Regions from separate parts of the Homo sapiens genome. Here region 2 is linked to region 1. The links come from fine-mapping of genetic effects on gene expression. Tissue or cell type: whole blood. Region 1 holds a variant in brackets; the other region holds the start of a gene. All regions are shown on one strand. Distances are from middle to middle. Region 1 overlaps ZBTB38 (zinc finger and BTB domain containing 38). Region 2 holds the start of ZBTB38 (zinc finger and BTB domain containing 38).

The links.
Region 2: ZBTB38 starts here. The variant in region 1 is fine-mapped to the expression of ZBTB38 in whole blood (TOPMed, PIP above 0.99).

The regions. Positions count from the first base shown.
Region 1 is chr3:141,388,550-141,397,773 of GRCh38, forward strand. The region is part of intron 4 of ZBTB38 (zinc finger and BTB domain containing 38); the gene reads left to right. Among named protein-coding and RNA genes, the nearest start is that of ZBTB38, 25 kb to the left of the region's middle. RefSeq lists enhancers at 4,397-5,006, 5,007-5,617. The variant C/T (reference allele first, on the strand shown) is at 4,777.
Region 2 is chr3:141,364,911-141,374,134 of GRCh38, forward strand. ZBTB38 (zinc finger and BTB domain containing 38) reads left to right here and starts at 3,594. Exons shown (of 6, transcript NM_001376113.1): 1 at 3,594-3,894; 2 at 4,962-5,036. RefSeq lists enhancers at 2,393-3,168, 2,996-4,195, 3,261-3,490, 3,945-4,720, 7,998-8,047 and 1 more.

The sequences.
Region 1 (9,224 bases):
ATGAGCTCTTTCTTTTGAACTTAACTTCTCAAATATATTTTAGTTTCAAATTTAACACTGGGCCAGAACCTGTTTCCTTGGTAACCAAATCGTATTTAAACATGTAATAACAGATATGCAAAAGAATGTCTTTAAAAAGGAAACAAATGTTTAATGAAAAATTTACAGTTCTTTTTCCTCTCATATAGAATCTGAACTGGTTTTAGATGGTTTTTAATGCGGTCTTCAAGCCTTAAAAATTAAGCCATGTTTCTAAACATATAGAGAAAGCTTGCACAGTGACAGCTTTTCTCTCCCTCCTTTGTGCTCAGTACTTTCAAAATTAAGGTTTTCTTTGCAGTATGCTCCAGAATGCAGGTCAAGGTTTGTGTACAGAGGTGTAGTTTCATTATCACAAGTTCACCAGCGCCACTGAAACAAAAGGTATTTCAGAAATTCTGAGAATCAGAAAATGCTTGTACTCTTGCCTTCCCTGATCCCTCCGTTGGTAACCTCAGTGCTGTCGGTAGAAAAGGACCCACATCCAAGCCTACCCCTCCAATGACAAGTGCACCCTGAACCTTTGTGGAAATATCTCTATAGGTGTGTTAGGAAGATGGTGCTAAACCTGAAACCTCCCCGAGGTTTGCTTCAATGTGAAGAACATTGAGATTCAAAACCATCTGTGTAAATGGCTGCTTTATTCTAGCAGTTTAACTAATATTCTATTCCATAGCACTATCGTAGAATTGAACCTCTCTAATGGGCTGAAGGGTGGTGGTGGTTGTTGTCATGTTGTTTTGTGGCCAACTAAAATATTTTGCTTGGAGTCTTTCTCTGGTTCAATTATTTTGGAACGTGATTCATCTCATACTGATTTTGTTCTCCAGGCTTGCCATGAAATACCCTTCCTGCAACACCTTTTTTTTTTTTTTTTTTGGCTGTTGGGAGCCATTTTCCTTCTTGCCTGTGACTTTAAATGACTAAGTACATTTTGAATATAGTATCAATCAGAAGATTGTAAACTGAAGGGAAATATCAGAAACCTGATTCAATATTGCCTATTTTTTTTAGTACCAACAGCATTAACAGTTGCAATAGGATCAAGCTAATTGTCATTCGCTCTTGAGCAAATAATGAGCCAGGCATTTATAATTAAAACACTACTGCTAGTCAGAAAGCTTATAACTACAATGTCTTCTATTTTGATAGGCCAGTACAAAGTAATCATTTTGCACCTATTTGAATCTTAATTACAAGATTAGATGGATGCAATGCAATTGTTTTACCATTAAAATGAATGCCTGATAGATTCAACAGTGTATTTCTTCTTTATAGAATGTCGATTCTTTTGTTTGTGACTCAAGCATGGTTGCGTCATCTTGTAGATTTTCATACTTAATGGCGTTTTTTTGTGGCATTATTCACTTATGTTGCTCTTAGTCTTGCCTAAAAGAATTTTAAACCCAATTCAAGGATCTAGAAAGCCAAATAAGATTGTTGGGAAGTGTATCGTACCATCGTCATTCTAATAAATAAACCAGTGAATAGAATAATAATTACTATATATTACTTCGTTGTGTTTCACCTTAATACTTTGCCTTCATATTTCACAGCAATCTTGACAAGGCACAAAGCTTTCCTAAACTTACCCATTTACAATTATTATTGAATTTCCAAGATTAGCTGAAAATGCTTCTTGATGATTGTAGAGGATGGCACTTACCCCATCTCATTGTTTGAAAAGCTATCCTGAACCCATTTACACTTTTTGGCTCCGGTATTTTTACTGGGCAGGCCAGAGCAGGTGTGACAGCAAGACTGTGCAAACAATTGCACTGTTCTCACCAAAACAAAATGGGCAAATATGTGGTTTTCTGTTGGAATGATTTATAATATAAAATACTATAATATTTATAATACTATAATACCAAGATTGCATCTCTTGCCATAATACTAGAGTGGTATTGATCTACCCCATCCATTTCCATGGATCCCCCGGAGATGGACTGGGAATCAGACTATGACTTAGAGCCTCTTCACTGTTATGTGAGAAGAATCTAGAAAGAGATCTAGCACTTTCTCTTTAGTACTAGGTCATGCTAAGTCTTTAAGTTCCTGGTACCATGTGGTTCATTCTAACAGCTCCTTTCCAAGGGAAATCCTGTTCTTAACAGCTCTCTTGGTAAATAAACAGTCAACACATTTATTGAGCATCTGCTACATGCCAGGCATATTCCAGAGGACGGGAGGGTGCTTGCAGGGAGGGGAATAAGCAAAAATATAGATGTAAATAAAGAAGGCAAGTGCACAGAGGAAAATTAAAAATTTTAAAATGAAAGTGGGCCAGGCACAGTGGCTCATGCCTGTAACCCCAACACTTTGGGAAGCCAAGACGGGAGGATTGCTTGAGACCAGGAGTTTGAGACCAGCCTGGGCAACATAGCAAGACCCCATCTCCACAAAAAATTTTAAAAATTAACTGGACACGGTGGCTGGTGTGCACCTGTAGTCCTAGCTATGCCGGAGGCTGAGGTAGGAGTATTACTTGAGCCCAGGAGTTCGAGGTTGCAGTGAGCTAGAATCATACTACTGCACTCCAGCCTGGGCAAAAAAGCAAGACTCTTTCTCTAAAAAAAAATTAAAATTAAAAAAAATAAAATAAGTGAGGGTTATGTGGTTCTAGGGAGGAGAGCCACTTTAAAATGGTTGATCAGAATGTTCTGAGGATGTAGCATTTAAGTGAAGATCGTGTGCTGAGAAGGATCTAGTCAGGTGAAGATCTGACGTGGGGCATTACCAGGAGAGGAGTGCTCATGCTCAGCCTTCAAACTTTCCTTTCTTTGTGTAAATGTTGCTATCTCAGAGCCAGGTCTGACAGTTTCAAGGACTGAGGCTTAACTTAGGTAAGCTTCCCCTACAGTAAGAGGATGGCCCAGGTCCCTGTGACTGGTTTTAGCCAGTCAAACTCCCAGAGTCTGGTACTCATGGGGTCATTGCCTTTGACCCCGTCACGACCCTGAAACTGCTTCAGAAGGTAGAGTACATTGCAGTGCTAGGTGGTGATGAAATTCTGGCACAGATTCAGTGTCAACCCAAGAAATGCACAGAAGAAAGACCTCTCAGAGTAGAGAAATTTCTGAGAAGCCTCTTGCTTTATTTTTCATAAGAATTCTGGAATTTAAACCAATGGCAAAACATTGAGATAGTCATTGAATTTTTTTCAAAGGCAAAATGGTGGAAGGGTTTGTCTCATCTCATCTCATCTGGCCAGTAGATTGTCTTAGTCCTAAAATGCCTCCCATCAGAGTGAAGTTTTTTTCAGGTTTTGCTAAAACGCTTCAGCTCTGCACACATCTTTGCCTGTTGGTGGCTTTCTAAAGAACTAGTGAGGTTTTTTTTCCTCTATTAGAGCAAGTCATTCTTTAAAAAATTCTTCTTAAGAACCAGAACTCTTTCATGCTTTTCAGGTTATTCTGTTGACAAAGGTCAGGGAACAAAGGGAGAAGTTTGCTATGTGAGTTAGAAACTATAAGGCTCTTTTGAGCCTTCTAAACATTTCAGAAGCACCGTCTAAAATTGATTCATTACTTAGCTGACTTTGCTTATCACAGTAGAGGCGGCCTGGCTGGCATGTTATACTTCGTTGGGTTTTGAGAGGCCCTGAAACATTCCACAACATGAAGACAAGCTTGTTCGGTTCCTTTGTAGTAGAGTGGGGAAGGGGGCTGGTGGTAAAGGGGCTCTCTGCCCATTAGTGGGGAAGGGGACTGCAACAATTCAGTTTACTTCTTTGAGCATTTGTTGAGCATCTGCTATGTGCCAAACACTGCTATAAGCCAAGCAGAATGAAATATGACATAGTCCCCCTATGAAACTGCAGTCCAGGTTCCCACACAAGGGTAGAGCATTGTATGGACAAGTACAATTGTGTATCCTCCCTGTTCCAGGAAGAAATAAATGGCATGCTGTTCTCTTAATGGCCTTTTATACTGTTCGCTAGAGGCCATCCCTCAGTTTGGGGCATTTCAGCTGATGACAAGGACAGTTCTTCACTTGGACTTTGTGTCTTGACCTCACCACCTTCCCGAGATGTCTTGGCTCCTAATAAGCCACCGTATGTCTGGCTGCCCTTCTTCAAGCTGGTCCGCCTGCATTGCCAGGTGACCTCAATAACGGCTGCCACTTTTGCATTCATGAGCAGATGTTAAGTTGAGAAGCCCTCAAATGCAAAAATTTGAATTTGTGATGTAGGCAAGATGTTTTTGCTTTCTTACCTTCCCTGGTTGACAGTGGGGGGTCTCCATGCTGGCTGTTCTGCAGAAGGCTTTCCGGGCAGCAGGTAAATCAGAGACCAGTTGCAAAATCAATTGTCTTTGTTAGGTGATCCCAGCATGCCACTGCCTTAGCCTAAATGTCTCATTGACCAGAAAATTGCTCTTTTGATCTCATAACTCATTTTGCACTTTTTCCCCCTTAATGTTCTCCTTGCTTCTGCAGCAATTCCTGCTCAGGGTTCAAGACTGAACACTCCCTATGTTTGGCCTGTGGAGGGAGTTTGTTTTCTGGTGCTGTTTGGTTTGAAAATTGCCAGTGTAAATATTCTTTCTGTGCTCATGAAAAGCAGTGGAGGCTTTCATTATATGCTTTCTACAATAAAACAATCCTCTTCCTTACTCTGTGGTCATTGCTGCCAAATGGATATTTTGAAATTTCTTTTCCTCTTGCTTGCTAAAATCTCCCACCCTGTCTGAGGCCTTGCTCTAATTAAGGCCTGACAGTCCTGCCGACCTTCCC[C/T]AGCGCTGAGCATGACGTAGAGTCCCTGCCCTGAGGGCCTTACAAGCCAGTGAAGCCAGAAAACAAAAGCCACCAGCTGAGAGTGTGGTTAAATCCCAGAAGGGCAGTGCCCTTGTCATTTTTTTTTCCTTTTCTCTTGTTTCTTGAACTGAGGAAGGGAAGAGAGGAACCTGGAGCAGGGAAAGGAAGGAACTACACCATGGAAAGATTCTCTGAAGTACTCAGGGTACTGGGGAACAGTGCGGAAGAGAATGGGGTGGTCATCTGGGAAGCAAAATGGGGAGCTGGCTGTAGATAGAGAGGGCAGCATGGGGGCAGGGTGAGGATGCAGAAGATAAGAAAGAGGGAACAAAGGAAGCAGTCAGGAGGCAGCCAGGGGGACAAAAGGAGATGCCGCTCTGCTGCGCCATGGAGCTGGGGGAACAAGGTACCAGGGAGAAAGTGGGAAGGGGTTGCAACTAGAAAAAGAAGGCTCAGGAGAGACCTTAAATGCAGGTTGCAGGCCTACGGCATACAGACTGGGTGCTATGATGTACTCTCTGGCTTCGCTCATAATGTTGGCCTTGCTACTTAATGGCCCCACGTTGGCGATTGTGAAGCGCCTACAGATTGATGTCCTTAAAGGTGATTTATTTACTACAGAGTCATAAGAACTTTCCATTTCTTTTTTTTTTCTTTCTTTCTTTTCTTTCTTTTTTTTTTTTGAAACGGAGTCTTGTTCTGTTGCCAGGCTGGAGTGCAGTGACGCAATCTCAGGTCACTGCAACCTCCGCCTCTTGGGTTCAAGTGATTCTTCTGCCTCAGCCTCCTGAGTAGCTGGGACTACAGGCATGCACCACCATGCCCATCTAATTTTTGTATTTATTTTTTTTAGTACAGACGGGGTTTCACCATGTTGGCCAGGATGGTCTCAATCTGTTGACCTCGCGATCCGCCCGCCTCAGCCTCCCAAAGTGCTGGGATTACAGGCGTGAGCCACCGCGCCCAGCCTGAACTTTCCATTTCTCTCCCAAGTCTCCTATTCTACATGCTGAGGATGCCAGAGGGTCCCCTTACCACCACTCCTCACCACCCCCTACCACCCTCCTCCCCATCACTGTACTAGATCTGAATTAAACATTAAATGAAATAAGCAGACTTTTTATTCATGCTATGTGATCAAGTGCTTTTGGTCATCTACAAAGCACAGACTGAAGACCTACCCAAAATACTTGCTGTACACTGCAGATTTTAGAAATTATTTTCCCCAAAGTCAGGTTGCCCACTGCAGGCATGCTAGTTTGCTCTGGGAGCCCCCAGAGCCTTCCTCTTCCTTCCTTCACCAGCCTATCCAGCCCCTAGTCTGAGTGCCTGTGGAGCCATCCTCAAAGGATATTCTGATTGTTTGAATCGCTTGGTCTCCAGGAGAACCACACCTGGCTGGCATACCAGCATTTAGCACTGCATCATCCCTGTACTTCCTGCTAAGCTCTTATGGGAATCTGAACTACACGTTTCTGTTGCCTTATTGATTTTAGACTCTATACTCTATCTTTGAGGGAATCATGGCCCAGAGAAGATGGGACTTCTTAAGGTCTCTCGGAGAGTTAAGTGGTGGAATGAAACCAGGCATGACTCCTAGACCAGTGCTCTTTTGACTAAAGCTGCCTTGAGGTCACAGGGAAAGCCCAAATTCTAAACCAGAGGCTGACAAACTTTTTCTGTAAAGAATCAGACAGCAAATACTTTAGGCTTTATGGCATGAAAAAACAAATTTTCAACAAATTGAGTTTAAAGATCTACTTGGTTTTTATTAGCAATTCGTGAATCAGGCAGCACGCTATCTATAACAAATAGGAAGGTATTCTGTTGGGCATGGCAGAACAATTGGTTTTTATAAGGTAGCTTAGGCAGGAACAAGGAAATAACATAATACAAAAAGCAGATTGGTTAACATCAGGTTACTGCAGGTAATTTTCCTTATAAAGGTTAAAGCAGAGGGGACTGCTTTATCATTCTGGCTAAAATTGGCCTATTATCTCTCTCCTAATTTCTCAAGTCGGATAAACAACTTCATTTCAGTTTGGTGATGTGGAACTTTAGCGTGAGTGACTCCATTTTGGTTTGGTCTCTTGGGGCTTAGTGCAGGAGCCAGTCTAAATCAATGGCCTTCTATACATTTAGTTTAACAGTGGGTCAAGACAAAACTGAAGATACTTCGTAGGTATTTATATAACAAGTGACAAAGCAAATTTTCATAAATTTTGTATTATGAAATTCAAAATACAATAATATATAATATTAAGTATAGTAATAATGATATACTATCATTCACAGATACAGAAATGAATGAATGTGACTGTGTCTCAAAACTTCACTTATAAACTCTAAAATCTGCATTTCATATAATTTTCACATCATGAAATACTGGCATACCTCAGATGTCACAGGTTCGGTTCCAGGCTACTTCAATAAAGCGAATGTTGCAATAAAGCAAGGTGCACAAACTTTTTAGTTTCCCGGTGCATATAAAAGTTGTGTTTGCATTATACTGTAGTCTATTAAGTGTGTAGTACCATTATGCCTTAAAAATGTATATACCTTAGTTTAAAAATAATTTGTTGCTAAAATATGCTACTGATGTCTGAGCCTTCAGCAAGTCATAATCTGTCTGCAGATGGAGGGTCTTGCCTGGATGTTGAAGGCTGCTGACTAATCAGTGTTGTGTTGCTGAAGGTTGGGGTGGCGATTTCTTAAAATAAAACAACAGTGAAGTTTACTGCATTTATTGACTTTCACAAAAGATTTCTCTTTAGTTTGTGGCACTGTTTGATAGCATTTTACCCACAGTAGAAATTTCTTTCAAAAGTAGAGTCAGTCTTCTGAAACTTTGTCCTTGCTTCATCAACTAAATTTATGTAATATCATATATCCTTTGTTGTCATTTCAACAAGGTTCACAGTGTCTTCACCTGGAATAGATTCCACCTCAAGAAACCAGTTTCTTTGCTCATCCATAAGAAGCAACTCCTCATCTGATCAAGTTTTATAATAAGATTGCAGAAATTCAGTCTCATCTTTAGGCTCCACTTCTAGTTCTTATGCTATTTCCACCACATCTGCAGTTACTTCCTCCACTGAAGTCTTGAATCTCTCAAAGTCATCCATGAGGGTTGGAACCAACATCTTCCAAACTCCTGGTAATGTTGATATTTTGACCTCCTTCCATTAATCATGAATGTTCTTAATGGCATCTAGAATGGTGAATCCTTTCCCAAAGGTTTTCAATTTGCTTTGCCCAGATCCATCAGAGCAATCACTGTCTATGGCAGTTATAGCCTTATGAAATATATTTTTAATAAGACTTGAAAGTCAAAATTATTCTTTGATCAGGACTACAGAATGGATGTTGTGTTAGCAGGCATGAAAACAACATTTATCTCCTTGTACATGTCCATCACAGTTCTTGGGTGACCAGGTATATTGTCAATGAGCAGTAATATTTTGAAAGAAATCTTTTCTCTGAGCAGTAGGTCTCAACAGTGGGCTTAAAATATTCACTAAACTAGATCTGCTGTCATCTAGTCATTGTTGTTCCATTAATAGAGTACAGGCAGAGTAGATTCAGCATAATTCTTAAAGGTCCTAGGATTTTCATAATGGTCAATGGGCACTGGCTTCAACTTAAAGTCACCAGCTTCATAAGCCCCTAATTGAAGTTTTGAAGCCAGGCATTGATTTCTCCTCTCTATTTATGAAAGTCCTAGGTGACATCTCCTTCCAATAGAAGGCTGTTTTGTCTACATAGGAAATCTGTTGTTTAATGTAGCCACCTTCATCAATTGTCTTAGCTAGATCTTCTGGATAACTTGCTGTAGCATCCACATCAGCACTTACTTCACTTTGCACTTTTATGTTATGGAGACAGCTTCTTTTTCACACTTCATGAACCAACCTCTGCTTGCTCCACATTTTTCTTCTGCAGCTTCCTTACCTCTCCTAGTCTTCCTAGAATTGAGGAGAGTTAGGGCCTCACTCTGGATTAGGCTTCGGCTAAAGGGAATGTTGTGGCTCGTTTGATCCTGTATCCTGACCACTCATTCTTTCTCCAGATCAGCAATAAGGCTTTCTTATCATTTCCGTGTTCATTGGAGTATCCCTTTTAATTTCCTTCAGGAGCTTTTCCTTACAACTTGGCTAAATGCTTAGCACAAGAGGGCTAGCTTTTGGCCTGTCTTGACTTTCGACATACCTTCCTCATGAAGCTTAATCATTTCTAGCTTTTGATTTAAAGTGAGAAATGCTCAATTCTTCCTTTCACTTGAACACTTAGAGGCCATTGTAAGGTTAATTGGCCTAATTTCAGTATTTTTGTAGATGAGGAAATATGGAGGCCCAAGGAGAGGAAGAGAGGTAGGGAATGGCCAGTCAGTGGAACAGTCAGAACATAAACATTTATCAATAAAGTTC
Region 2 (9,224 bases), 24 kb before region 1:
GGGAAATCAGAACCCTCATAAATTGCTAGTGAGAATGTAAAATGATGCAGCACTTTGGAAAACAGTTTGATAGTTTCTCAAAATGTTAAACATAGTACGATATCACTCAGCAATCCCACTCTTTTGTGTCTACCCAAGAGACATGAATGCATGTCCACAAAAAAAAAACTTGCACATGAATGTTCATAGCAACATTATTCATAACAGCCAAAAAGTGAAAACAACTCAAGTGTTCATCAACTGAGATTTGGATAAACAAAATGTTGTATACCCACACAGTGGAATATTATTTGGGCATAAAAAGGAAAGAAGTACTAAAGTATTCTATGCCTTAGTTCATTTGCTGTTGCTTAAACAGAACACTTGAACCTGGGTAATTTATAAAGAAAAGAAATTCACTTCTTACAGTTATGAAGGCTGAGAAGTCCAAAGTCTAGGGATCACATCTGGTGAGGACCTTCTTGCTGGTGCGGACTCTCTGCCAAGTCCCAAGGTGACACAGGACATTACATGGCAAGGTGGCTGAGAGTGCTAGCTCAGGTCCCTCTTCCTCTTCTTATAAAGCCACAAGTCTCTCTCTTGTGATAACCCATTAATCCATTAACCAATTAATCCATTAATCCATGAGTGGATTAACCACCTCTGAAAGACCCCACCTCTCAGTACTGCCATATTGGAGATTAAATTTCAACATGAGTTTTGGAGAGGACAAATATTTGAACCATATATTGTATGATTCCATTTGTAGAAAATGTCCAGAAGAGGAAAATCTATAGAGACAGAAACTAGATGAGTGGTCATCTAGGGCTGGTAGGTGGGGACAAATGAAGAATGATACCTAATAAGCATGGTGTTTTTTGGGGTGGTGACAAAAAGTGTTAAAAAAAAATAGATTACAAATTACATAATTCTGTAAATACACTAAAACCCATTGAATTGTACACTTTAAGTGAGTGAACTTTCTGATATGTAAATTATACCTTAATAATTTTTTTTAAAGAGAGGGAATAAAATGAGAGAAATCTAAGTCAACAAGTATAGACAAGTCTTCCAAGGAATTCCTTGCATTCATAAAGGTTTGGTTTTAATTACCAGCATTTAACTGCATTTGTTGTAGCAAAGGAGGAGGATGCTCCACTTCACGTAGAGACCAGGGAAGTGCCATTGTACTTACTTCTCTGTATCTCCAAGTGGATATTTTTCCCAGTTCTCTGATTTTATTTTCACTGTTAGTATCAACCCCAGAGCATATAACCCAAGAATCTGTGTCTCACTTAAGCTTACTGATCATTTCTGCTTCTTTTCTTTATTTTTCTGTTCACATTATCCTGATAGGATGCAGGGTGAAGAAATAATCAGCCTCTGTTCATCTTATTAGAGAAATAAATACCTGTGTATATGAAGCAAGCAAGGCCACTGAGTCTTTGGGGAAACAGAGCAGGGAGGTGCCCAGAGGCATTTTCTGCAGAGAAGGAAGAAAAGAATAAACAAGTCTTCTGCCAAAAATGCCTGGAACTTAAAGCGATTTCCTCAGCCCAAGATCAGGCTGTGTGCAGACACTGACAGTGAACCTGATCAGTTGCTGCTGCTCCCTTGATTAAAAGCATGTAGCTTTCTCTCTTGTGAAATTCACCTCTATAAATTCCACCTGCCTAGGGATTCAAACTACATGGAACAAGTGCAATTCCTCAGAGTGGCAACTGGCAGAGCTCCCAGGAACAAGGTAGAACTACACAATGTCCCAGGCATCAGAGGCATAGATTGCCTGAGTCAGGGAGAGTGGTCTCTGTGACCTGACACCCCACCCACAGTGGGAAGGAAAGCTGTGGGTGTGTTATCAAGGAGGCCTCCACAAGGGGCTGGAAATTCCTGGTTTTGTCTTCCTCTTGGAATGAGACATTTACTCTAAGAGAATCATGGAAAAGTACAAACCACAGAATCATAAACCACAGAGGGAGAAGCTACCTCGTAGGTCATTCTTATGCTGGGCCCAGATACCCCGATAAGCAGATGTTCTCTTCTCACCACCCCTCCTCGCCTTTGCTTGCCCACAGCCATTGCCAGGACTCTTCCTCAGGCCCAGAAAGGCAGCTGATTCCTGGTAGGAGGGCGCTAAGAGTAGAAAGTAACTACCATTGTCAGGTCCAGATCTGTTCCCAATCCCTTCTCACTCCTCCTGCACTCTAAAACCACACCACAGTTCCAACTCTTTCTGAGTCTGGAATCTTTGAGAGTGCCGTCATGTCCTTCTTCCTGTAGCCTTCTTGTCCACCCCAGATGGACTGACCCTCCCACCTACATCCATGAGGCCAGAAGGCAACAAAGACAAGCGTGGACTCTGGCTCCCGCCGAGGTACTCTGTACCCCGTGGCTCTCGGATTTTGCATCTACCACATGCCACAGGCTTGCGTCCATCCGACCTCCCTAGTTTCTCATCCCCACTTGAACCTGATGACTGATTCGCCCTCCTGGCTACGCTGAGTAAGCCACCCACTTGCCAAACCTCAGACCTGGTGTTGACGCAGTAAGAAGGCATGAGGCCCATGTTGCCAGAACATTCCTAATTGTTTCATTGTTTCCTTGTAGGATGTGGTTTCAAGTCCCATCTTTGTCTCTTTTCTCCTGGCCAGGTTGCCCTTGGTCAATATTCCTTCATTCACTCCAGCCACTCAGCACCGTGATTAAGAAAACAGGATGTGAGATTAGATGATCCAGGCTCTGCCATGAACTAACTAGCTGTGAGGCTTTAGAGAAGTGTCTTAACCTCTCTGAGCATCCATTTCTTTCTCTATAGCATTAGGAATATTAATAGTACCTACCTCACAGCTTTTTTGTTGTGATAATACCAATAAATGAAATAATCTTCATAAAGCACAGAGGCTTGAATGTTCACTCTAAGTATTTAATATGTGTCCTCTACTATTTTATTTTACAATTATCATTCCTTAATTCATCATATAATTACCAAGCCTCATGCCAGGCACTGAGATATAAATATCCCCTTTAAAGAGTGGTCATGTCTTAAATCCAGGAAGAGCTAGTTCATGTTGGCACCCAGGGTAGGGAGCGAAGCCCAGGGCCACAGCACAGAGGCAGAGGAGAATAGACACTGACCACCAGGAGCTGCCCGGGGATGGTGACAAAAGTGCCTTCCACCTTTCCGCATCTCTTTCAATACCACTGCAACTCCTTGAGTAAGGTGGGCACCACACAGAAGAAGGGGGATGGCAGAGGGGCAGTGAGAGGTCCCCAGGGAAACACCCTCTTCTTCTTCCCTGCTTCTCTGACAGAGCACGGCCATGCCTCTGCCATGCAGGAGGGTGATGTCCTTTGGGGAGGCCTTGTTGAATCTGTCTGGGGCTGTTCCGGAAGTAGGAAGGGCGGCTGGGGGTGGGGAGACGGCAGGAATGTTCTCCTGGCCTGCTGGTCTGTGCCGGCGAGTGTGCTGAGAGGAGGGCCTCTGGACATCAAAGGTTCCTTTTGTCCCCTTCCGAGTGGCAGGGCAGCCCGGCCCGGGCTGCTGGCGATGACTCAGGCCTGGCCCTGACGTCACCCACGCCCGGCCACTGGCCTCCCTCTGAAGCCAGGAAACTAGTTGGGGAGTGGCACTCGCAGCTGCAGCAAATCTCAAAATAAAGAGGCAACGGCCTTTCTCTTCCTCTCCATCTCCCTATAGCACACCTTTTATTTCTTTTCTTCTTTTTTTTAAGCCTCACGAAAGATTTTACTTGTAGATCAACTTTCAAAATGTAGGAAGTCAGAATGGGTGACATCATCAGAAAAATATGTGGAGCTGATCACAAGAAGTGAAGAACCCAGAGCACGAAAGCGGTTGTGACTCCTGGGCCCAGGGAGTTGACAGCGTCTGGGTTTCAGAGGAGCCAGCGCCTCCGAGTAAGTGAAGGCCCACTTTTGGCCCCCCCTCACTCAGCGCCCTTCACCGTAGGGCGCCATCTTGTTCCCTGACGCCTACAGCTTGCCAAGCCCCAGCCCAGAGTTGGGAGTAGGGACTGCATTTGGGAGACCCTCTAAATACGGCCCCAAAGGGATCTGATATCTCTCTCCACAGGATCAGAAAAGAATGCAAAAAAAAAAAAAAAAAACAATACTAAGACGGAAACCCTGGGGAGAACAGCCCAACTGATGCCTTTCCCTGTCAACCCTCTTGTTTTGCCTCCTCTTCCTCCCCTCACCTGAGTATTCCGTTTCAGGCTGTCAGAATGTTTGTTCAGAGTTCTGGATTGTTTGCTTCCTAGATCTTATACTGAGCGATCAGACATAAAAATAAACCCTGTTCTAGGCAAATACGTGTCCTGTGCCATCAAATGGTATTTTCACACTTAACCTGGTAAAATATGACAGCCCTGGTAAAAAGATGTACATAATTGTGCTGCCTTTACTGAGCACGTTTCTGATTGTTCTGTGTATGAACCTCCATTATCTTATCGCCCTGTTTACAGAGGACTTATTTTCATTCCTACTTGTGCCATCGTATCTGGGATGATATTAAGCACAAAGACACAATGTGTCTGTTTTAACTTTGTCTAAAAACTCATAGTTCTTTACAAAGCCTATAATTTCACGACCTCTGGAAGTTCCTACCCAAGAAAGTTAAGTTCCCAAGAGAAAAGTTTTGACACATACATGAGAACAGCACGTAGGCATAGAAATCATACCCTGATTTTCCCGGCTTCTAAGTCATCCCCTGAGTCAGCATCTAGTCTTCGTATAGCTGACGTACCAGGGGAGATCTGTTCTTCAGAAATTCTATGTTAAAATGACTGGGAGCGGGGAGGCGTAAGTCTCATTTTAAAGGCAGTAAGGAAGCTTGTCATTTACTGGAAAACAGTGGCATATTCCTTTGTAAATGGACAACTCCCTTTGGAAATTAACTATCACACACTAAAATATCTGTTTTATAGGCCTTATGTTTTACTTTTTGTTTTACTTTAATATATTAGGTTGTCTTGAAGTGAGGCTCTGCTGTAGTCCTGTTCTTCTGGCTCTAAGATCTGAATGTTGTGACCACTAATTTGGTAAGTGTCATTTGTCCCCAACAGCTACTTAAATTTAAGTCTCCCAATTCTCCTTTTTTAGTTTGTGGTAAGATTCAAAGAAAAGGGGAAAGGGCACAGAGATTTCTGTACACAATGATTACAGCTATATTAAAAAGGATATTAGGATAGGCTAATTGTTATAATAGAACCCCAAATCTATAATGGCTCAAACACAATAGTTTATTTCTTGCTCATGTAACAGTACAGGTCAGTGGGGCAACTGTCTTTCATGCATTCATTCAGAGACACAGGTAGAGAGGGGCTTTGCCTTCTGCAGCATGTGGTTTTCAAGGTCGCCTAGGGGTGTCTCCACTCCTCAGTGCAGTAAGAAAAGAGCATGAAAAAGTGCACATGGGAGTTTTTTATGGGCTCTGCCTAGAAGTGGTGCGTGTTACTTCTACTCACATTCCATTGGCTAAAACTCCATCACATGACCACAGCTAACCACAGAGGAGTCTGGGAAATGTAGTCCTTGGTGGAGCAGCCACTTAGCAGTGACAGCTCTGGAGGGGTTTCTGAAGAAGAGGTAGTTCTCTCTGGCACAGCACATAAAAGAAACTTGGAGATACTCAAGGATAAAGTTGCATAGAAACAGTGGGAGAAGTAAACAATTATCCACATTTAGGTTTTCCTGACTGACACTCTTAGGTAACATCTGGCCATGAGGGCAAGATGCAATGGATGAGATTTCTCAACACCTCTGTCCATTATGACCCTAAGCATCATGTTGCCCATGGCCAGTGAACCATGAAGGACATTTTCCTTATTTCCTTTTACTTATTTTTCCTCTCAGGATCCTCTTGGTCTAGGACTATACTGGCTTTCTCTTCTTCCTGGATCTAGTCATATTAGTTGGAATTGTGACAGAATTCTGCTCCCCCAACTATGAGCCCCAGTGGTCTATAGGAAAGCTCTTGACTTCCTTAGCTCGTAGTTTTCTCTGCTACTGGAGGCTTTGGAAATGTATCCTACAGGATCTGCTCCAGGTCTTGGGACATTTGATCAGGGTGAAAATTCCCGAAGGTTAGACCTTTAAACCAAGTTATTAAACTGTTTTTTCTTTTCTTTTCTTTCTTTCTTTTTTTTTTTTTTTTTTTTTTTTTTGAGGCAGAGTCTCACTCTGTTGCCAGGCTGGAGTGCATCGGCATGATCTCAGTTCACTGCAACCTCTGCCTCCCAGGTTCAAGTGATTCTACTGCCTCAGCCTCCTGAGTAGCTGGGACTGCAGGCACGCACCACCACACCCAGCTAATTTTTGTATTTTTAGTAGAGATGGGGTTTCACCATGTTGGCCAGGATGGTCTCCATCTCTTGACCTCGTGATCTGCCGGCCTTGGCCTGCCAAAGTGCTGAGATTACAGACATGAGCCATAGCGCCCAGCCGAGAAACTTTTTTTTTCTTTGAGACAGGGTTTCACTCTGTCACCCAGGCTGGAGTGCAGTGGCACGATCATGGCTCACTGCAGCCTCAACTTCTCAGGCTCAAGCGATCCTCCCAAGTAGCTGAGACTACAGGCATGTGTCACCATGCCTGGCTAATTTTTGTATTTTTTGTAGAAACAAGGTTTCACCATGTTGCCCAGGCTGGTCTTGAACTCCTGGGCTCAAGCAATCCACCACCCACCTTGGCCTCCCAAAGTGCTAGGATAACAGGCATGAGCCACCGGGCCCAGCCGAGAAACATTTAAAAGTAGACTAAAAAGTCTCAGGCTGGGGCTATTAATGCTACCCCAAAAGATGTGATATATATGTCTAGCTTTTTATTTTCAGGAAAAGTTTCAAAACATTTACTGAAATAATAAGTGGTAAAGTTGTAAGCTCTGTTTGGAGAACTTTTAATAAGTTTAACATTTTATGTAACCTTCTAACCATTGTTGATGTTGGTGAAGTATTCCCCTCATTCGTAAATATAAACCATATGATGGGTGCCTTGTGATGCCCCAGACTTAAAGGTGTGAAATAAAAATGAACTCAAGTCTTTGCCTGAGGTGCCTGGTACCTAGTTCTCTAGTTTTGTCAATATCTGACTAAACACTCTGGTTTCTGATTGACTTTTGCCCCTGGACTTGACCTTTCTGGCACCCACATCCACACCCTGAAGAGCATGTATTGTCTGTTGTGTGGGGATACCTGTTACTGGCCAATTTGCCACAGCTTCTCAGATATCTGACAGAGGCTGATGCCTGGCCTACTCTCCTGTTATGGCTGCCTAGCCTCTGCCCAGTCCCCTTACATTAGGATGGAGCTGAGGAGGAATGGAATAGAATAACAAGATGAGTTGCTGCAAAAATACTTCAGCCTCTGAAAGTCTGTCTTTCCAAGTTGTTAGGAACTGAAAGTGTCTATTGATCGGGGAGCTGGCTGGGCTAGTGGTATAAGCTAATGATAAGACCAGGTTGGGCTGGGCATGGTGGCTCATGCCTATAATCCCTGCACTTTGGGAGGCCGAGGCAGGTGGATCACTTGAGGTCAGGAGTTCAAGACCAGCCTGACCAACATGGTGAAACCCCATCTCTACTAAAAAAAAATACAAAATTAGCCGAGCAGGGTGGCGCACACCTATAATCCCAGCTACTTGGGAGGCTGAGGCAGGGGAATTGCTTGAACCTGGGAGGCAGAGGTTGCAGTGAACCGAGATCACACCACAGGACTCCGGCCTGGGCAACAAGAGAGAAACTCCATCTCCAAAAAAAAAAAAAAAGACCAGGTGAATGGGGAATACAGTGCCTGCTAGAAGGGTGCAGTTGAAGGAATAAGTTAAGAATATGTGCCAGATTTCAAAAGCTGGAGCCAAATGGGGATGATGTGTTGCTGGAAGTCCTAGCCTAACAGAGTCTTTCAGGAAGGGCAGAGCCAAAGGTCTCAGTCAACATCAGGGTCCATTCATGTGGGAGAATGGCTAATCACAGCTTGCTAATTTCAACTACCATCTGTTATGACTCCTCAAAGCACTAAGTATGCAGTAGTTGACATATGAATGGTGTTAGGGTTGGGGGAGGGGGCCAGCCTCCTGATTTCTAATTTCTAGCTGCATATTACTACAGGAAGGGGAGTAAGACCACCACATCAGGTACCAGAATTTCACTACTGTCAACACTTTGTGTTTGAAAGAAAGCCATAGATCCCTGTGACCACTGGATGCTGAGTGACCTCACAGACAACATCAGCAAAGCAGGATTGTGTACAAACACACATTTTGTAAATATTTTGATATTTGACATTTCAAAAAAAGCATCAAAGGAGACAGCCTGGGAAAAGTTAGACTTTGTTGAGCTTTCTCAACCTTAATTTTGTATTTTGTTATTTTTTTCTATTTTAATTTCACATGGGAGTAATAATTCAAATTTGAGGCACTATAGTCTTTTCAGAGCTTAGGTCATCTAAAGATCTGAGCCTGGCCTTGTTGAGCCATGATGAGCAGATGTGGACTGAGCACACAGTCTCACACAGGCAGCTCTTACACTAGTTGAGTATTTTAATCCCTGAGGTTTTAGAATTGTCATAGCACAGGTGTGCAAGCTCCTTTCTCCCCATGGGTCAGCATCATGAATGTTCTGTCACTCTCCTTAGAGAGTTTTGCAGAAATACCACATCATATTCACCAAAACTAAGAATTCATAGTAATAGGGCTTTATAATTTCTCACACTGAAATCCCCTAATTTCTTGTCAAGAACCAAGTTGGAAAATACCACACTTCAGGGTTTTGTTTTTAACTCAAGAAGCTTCTGGTTTTCATCAGAACTTTAAAGCTCCCTCCTACCTCCAAAATAGTATTGTTAGAAAATGTAATGCTGAGACTCTGTCAGAATAAGTAGGTGATATATGCAAAATGATATGGGCAACTTAGAAAAGTGCATGTCAAGGTAAACTGCTGATAAAGGCCGGGAGTGGTGGCTCACACCGGAAATCCCAGCACTTTGGGAGGCTGAGGTGCGCAGATTGCTTGAGGCCAGGAGTTCAAGACCAGCCCAGCCAAAATCGTGAAGCCCTGCCTCTACTAAAAATACAAAAATTAGCTGGGCTTGGTGGCACATGCCTGTAATCCCAGCTTCTTGGGAGGCTGAGGTATGAGAATTGGTTGAACCCAGGAGGCGGAGGTTGTGGTGAGCCACGACTGGGCCACTGTACTCCAGCCTAGGCAACAGAGGAAAAAAAAAAAAAAGTGT